Regions from separate parts of the Homo sapiens genome. Here region 1 is linked to region 2. Evidence: fine-mapped expression QTL. Tissue or cell type: atrial appendage. Region 2 holds a variant in brackets; the other region holds the start of a gene. All regions are shown on one strand. Distances are from middle to middle. Region 1 holds the start of LINC02881 (long intergenic non-protein coding RNA 2881). Region 2 has its middle 32 kb from the start of CXCL12.

What was found. PIP is the estimated chance that this variant, and not a neighbour inherited with it, causes the effect.
Region 1: LINC02881 starts here. The variant in region 2 is the best candidate, but not a certain one, in a credible set for the expression of LINC02881 in atrial appendage (GTEx, PIP 0.72).

What each region holds. Positions count from the first base shown.
Region 1 is chr10:44,291,382-44,294,287 of GRCh38, reverse strand. It overlaps LINC02881 (long intergenic non-protein coding RNA 2881), which reads right to left and starts at 1,538. Exons shown (of 3, transcript NR_164139.1): 1 at 1,355-1,538; 2 at 799-987; 3 at 1-375. LOC124902544 (a long non-coding RNA gene) reads left to right here. Exons shown (of 3, transcript XR_007062369.1): 3 at 1-374.
Region 2 is chr10:44,352,094-44,354,999 of GRCh38, reverse strand. No RefSeq gene overlaps it. Among named protein-coding and RNA genes, the nearest start is that of CXCL12, 32 kb to the left of the region's middle. The variant G/A (reference allele first, on the strand shown) is at 1,621.

The DNA of each region.
Region 1 (2,906 bases), 61 kb after region 2:
GTTTTGCCTTCGATGGCCTTCCGCCTGCCGCAAGCAACCCTCTAGAATATGGGCCTGTGCTTGGCTTTTCTACACAAACATGAGCAGCCTTCAATTACTGGGGGACATTCATTTCCTCCTTCCAACTAGAGAGCGAGGAGTGTCCCGGGGAGAGTGGGTCCTTGAGCTCCTCTGGGCCTTGCTTGGGACTTGGTCCAGGAGGTTATGGGAAGAAACTGGTTTAGAAGCTGACCTCATGGGTTCGCTATTCTTATGTAACACTTAGGAAGAGCAGAGACCCACGCGATTCAGTCCCAGAGCAATGTTGCGGTCAAGAGAACACAGTCCAGCTACCAACAGTTATTTCAAAATAATTCAAGCTCTTTGTTTATATTTCTGAAAGAAAGAAAGAAAAAAAAAGGGTGGCCCAGCTGGAAACTCGGCTTTAAGTCCCCTTTCAGGGGGCCCTCAGGTGGGCACCTGCTTGGAAACCTCTCCACCCCTCCAAACACCCTTTTCCTCTCTGAGTGTTCATTTGTTGATCCAGATTCTGAATAAATGAAGCCGTACAGAATCCACCTGGCAAAAATGGAAACTGCCTGGAGGCCAGGGCTGAGGGAAGGCCTGGAGCAGAGCCGGTGCGCGACCTCGCAGTGAGCAGGGAGGGCAGGCTGGGGACGTTCACCACCCAGAACGCCTCTGCTCCCCGCAACCCTGAGACTCCAGGCTCCCCTGTTCCTCCCTCCGGGAGACCCTGCCCGTCCTCCCCGCGGGGCTCCTTCGCAGTTCGGGGGAAGGGACGGGTTGCGTCCTCGGGACCTTTCTCTGCAGCCACAGCAGCGCATCCCAGCACCTCCTCCAGGAGCCCCGCCACCTCCTGCCACCCGGACTTTCCCCACAGCGCAGCGTCCCCTCGTCCTCTCAGGGCTGGAACAGCGGTACCCGCAGACAGTGCAAAAGGGAAGTCCCTGTTGCCTTCCCATGCAAACTGTAGGGCGCTTACAGCTGCTGGGAGAGGAAAGGAAAGAAGAAATACAGTGAGTGTGATATGGGTACAAAGAAACCAACACGGAGCTTCCGTGGGCCTAGAAAGGAGCCCCCAGGAGAAGTACACTGGGCCTGCGTCATCGCCTGCCTTCAGCGGGCTCCATCCTTCCCCAGGCCCCCCTCCCCACCCACCTCCCACCCGCGGTCCTCCCGAGGCCCCCCTCCCCGCCCCCCCTTCTCGCTTCCCCATCCCCCTCCCACCCGCGGCCCTCCCGAAGCCCCCCTCCCCACCTCCCCACCTCCATTCTTCGCCTCCCCAACCCCGCTCCGAGTCTCCCCGCCTCCCTATCCCGCCTCCCACCCGCGGCCCTCCCGACGCCCCCTTCACCTCCCCACTCCCGAGGCCCTCCTGAGGCCCCTGGGCTCCCGCTCCTCCGAGTTGCCTGCGGCCGAGTCCTGGCGCGGCCTGGGACTGCCTGTTGGGGGGAGGGGGTGGGGGGGGGTCGTTCCCAAAGAAGGGGAAGGAGGCCTTTCGTGAGCATCTGAGGAGTACATCCTCATTTTGTCTTCTCACTCTGTCCACCCAGAGCCTGTGACCCGGATCCAACCCGCGGCGCACAGACCCCGGCTCTGGGCACCCCTGGTGAGCGCCTTCTGCGCCAGAGCTCCGTACAGCACCAGCCCGCGCTCTCCCCCAGCTTCTGTTCATTTGCTGCAGTCCTGACGGGTCAGTTGCCTGAGCATCCATGCTGCCATCCATACAAACCCAGGCACGCAGAGATGTACATCCTTTACCCAGGGTGACACCATGTGGAGCTGAATCCAAGTCCGGGAGTCTGATGACCGTGTCTGGGCTCTGACCGCGCAGCCGTCTCACAGTGAAACAAATTGCGGACTGGCCTTGTCCTGAGTGGCCTTAGGAAGCTGCAGTGGCCTGCAGTCTCCTGGCCAGTCTGTAGAATTTGGCAAAGATGAGGCACCTTATAGCCTTACATGTTCTTATTTTTCTTTCCTTTTCTCTTCTTTATTTTCTTTTTTAAGGATTTGAATTAGTATATGTAAAGTGCTTAACGCAGGAGCTGGCAGAGAAAGTGGATACTCAGTAAATAACAGCAATTGTTAATTGTAAAAAGCATGCCACTTATCTGGTAAAATCCCCCATTCTAAGCACCCTGTTAAGTAGTTGGTAATTCCTCACTTGAAAGAAATTAAAAAGAATTTTTGTCAGTTTTTTAAAATATTGTTTTATTGTGATAAAATATTCATAACATAAATTTCACTCTTTTAATACTTTTTAAGTGTACAATGCAGATTAATAAGAGAAATGCATACAAATTTATTAACGTGTACACGGGAAAAATAAGGTGATTACCCAATATCCCATGAGGTCCAGATACTTATACAGCGTTTTTTCAGAGAGGAGGGTGGAAGGCGGAATGTAGGTGATTCTGTTGAGGGGCAATAAATTATTATTAAGGAGAATGAATGGGTCAAGAAACAGAGAGTTATTCGTAAATGGTTCTCTTTGAAAATTTAATAAGCTGGAGAAATGGATTATTTTTTTGAAAGCGTCTGTTCAGGTGTGGTCACGTGTTGGTTTTCTTTTCTGCAATAGATAATGAGATAAGAGGGAGGAGAAGGAAAAGTAATTGTTCTCTTTGGTGGGTCTGCAGGGTCTTCATGTAGATAAGGGAGAGGACTCTTCCAGCTTCTGTTGATCTTGAGGGACTTTAATTGAAAATACTCATACCAGGGAGCCATATTTTGGGGCCAAGTTCCCTGCGCTCCTTCAATCCTCCTGTTTGGAACTTCCCTAGAATTTCACATTATCAACAGCTGAATCAGTGATTATGGAGAGATTTGGGTTAGAGGAAAAGAAGGCAAAGAAGGGGAAAAAACAAATTGGGATAAGCAGAAAAGAAAAATAAATAAATATGTTG
Region 2 (2,906 bases):
GTTACACTTTCAGATGATATTTTCCCATGATGTTTGCATTTCTTGAAACAAGCCTGCACTACTTTTATAGTACATGTAAACAGTAAAAATAAAACAAGAAGAGGCAGCATTCAGCACTCTGCAAGGGGAGCTGCTTCCTAACTCGGCTCACTCTGGTCCCAGGTTTCAACTCCAAAGGGGACACAAGCTGACCCAGTTCCAGCACTGTGTGTAAAAATTCCCCAAGGGGATTTTAGCTTAATGAGTTACAACAATGCCCAAAGGACTTGTTGAGAATGAATCAATTCACACTCTGGAATAGGAACTTTACAACTTTAGTCTGAATTAAGTTTAGGTGTTACAAGCCTAGTTTTTGGAGTTAGGAAGACCTGAGCTATAGTCCAGACTTAGCCTGTGTGAGTGTGACCTCAGACAAGTCACTTAATTTCTCTGAGCTCCAACCTTGTCATCTCAAAATATTTCTAAATTTAGGGGAGAACTAATTGAGAAAATATATGAAAAATGGTTAACATAATAAGCACTTAATACATACTCAAAGCGTGAAGATGATTCTCATTATCGTTATTCTAAATACTACTCCATGTGTAGAGCACAGCATGGGAGGTGAAGATACGTCAGCTTCCAGCTTCTTTCTAACAGGGCGAGCATGGCAAGAAGGTGCTCTCTTCTCAATCTGGCCTGGGCTCCTCTCATCATTTTCAGAGCCTATTCTGCCTGCCCTCTGCGATATGACCCTGAAGCCTAGGGTGGCAAAGCCTTTTATCAATGTCTTTATCACTGATGAGGGAAATCTTCAGTCTTGCCACATGCAACCCCCACAGTTCCCATATGCCCAGAGGCTGGATCACCTGATGCCAAGGAAGGACATGTCCTCTGATAAGGTCCCCAGAATGCTGACTGCCCACTGAGGTGGCTGGCTTGGGACAAGTGTCTTGCGGCAGGTCATCTGAGGGCTCCATGACTGGCTCGGTGGGGTCACAAGGCCATTTTAAACATTTGCTGTTCAGGAAGAGGCTTTTTCCAAGTGAGGATTCAAGGGGAGCCCTGCCATGGGCAGCCATGGGGACACAGGGATAATCCTCTAAGATGGCACCCCTGTCCTTGCTGCCTACCCATCTCCATCAAGCCACTCTGTGCCCACGGTGAAAGGGCCCCACTTCCCGTGTGAGTCAATACAACACATTCCACGCCAGCAATATGGAGCCATCGGGTGTGGAGGTAGAAAGGGTTGGCCTGAAGCTGTGCGTGCCCTCAACCTGCAAGGGGAAGTTGCTTTCTCCTCCAACCCAGATGGGCCTGGAGCAAACACTCACAAGAGGTTTTAGGGGTGGCACTTGAGGGACAATTGGTGTTTCATTGACTATGCCACACTCGCTGCTTTCTACCCCTAGCTGTCTCTCTCTGTTCATGGGTAGCCGTTTCCGGGAGTATTGAGGAGCTTGTGTGTGTGATATCCAGGCCCCTCAGGGCCTAGTTCATGGTCATCACTGATACAGCGACCAGACCCCTGCTGGATGGTGCAGGTCATACAACAGGGTCCTCTGTGGAGACAGACCCTCTAGCAGCTCCTGCCAGCCAGTTTGGGCTTTAAATCATAAATTTGGTGCTGCCTTTCCTCTG[G/A]AGGGAAATTTTCCAATGGCTTTTCCATGCCACTGGAATCAAATCCAGACTCTTTTCCAGGGCCTGCAGGTCCAGCGAGGTGTGCCTCTGGCTACCTTCCAGGGTTCCTCGAGCCCCTCTCCAAACTACCCAGGCTTCCGTGCCATCAAGCCTGGGCCCCCTCAGGACCTTGGCCTGGAGCGACCCCATCTGCTTATGGCTGTCTCCTCTTCACTCTTCAGGTCTCAATTCCACAAATCCCTGCTCCCCTGGTCAGGTCGGGCAGACCGCCCTCTGCACCCCAGCCCTGCCTCTGTCCCCGTTGAGCTGCCCCACAGCAGTGTCACCATTGACAGTCCCTTGTTTCCTTGCCCACTGCCTATGTCCTCTTCAGCATGTGAACTTCAGGAGAGCATAGGGCCAACGGAGATCCTTGCCTTTCTCCATCTGTGTCACCAGGGCCCTAGAAGGAGCAGGAGAACAGTTCGATATTTCACACCTGAATGGTATTTAATCAGTATGTGAGGGCTGGACAGATGCATGAATTCCCAGGTGGCTTTCCAGTTTAGAGACACGGGGCTCCTGCCTTTAAGACAGAGGGTCAGAGGCATTCCACCAACCAAGCCCCTCTGTGCACTGCAGGGGTAAGGGTGGACACACCAGCATCTTCCTCCTAAAAAGTGCGCACTCCCAGGACCCCCTGATAGAGGAAGACTGGGAGATGCAAGGGAGTGTGCAGAGGAAGCCAGCAGCAGGTGTGAGGAACCCCAGGACTTCTCAATGAGCCTGGGGCCAAGGGTAAGAGGCCGGGCCTGACACAAGTTCAGTGGGATCCTGAGCCTTGGAGCCGGCAGCTTGCCCAAGCCACAGCTGGCCAGGCTCAGCTGAGCCTCCCAGGAGGAGGAGGGCTGTATAAACAGGAAGTCTACCGCCCCGACACTGATGGGCCTTTGATAACTGCTAAACCCTCCTCAGTCTTTCTCCCAAACAGTTCCTCCCTTGGTTTGAAGTCACAGTTCTGGGGGCAGGAAAACAGATTCCACACCTTCCTGACTCAATCACCAGGCACCAGAAAGAGGGAGAGGATGGAAGCAAGAGGTGACAGAGAGAACCAGAGAGACGGATGAGGGAGGAGGGAAGGAAAAAACAGAAACACGAGGGAGACAAAGAGTGAGGAGGGGAAGAAAATAAGAAGAGAAGCAAAGAGAGTGTGGCACCAGGAGAGAGGTGAAGAGTGAGCTGAATGACCCTGTAGTTTCTCTAATGCAAAGTTTCTCTAATGCAAAGCAGCTAGCCCAAAAGGAGCT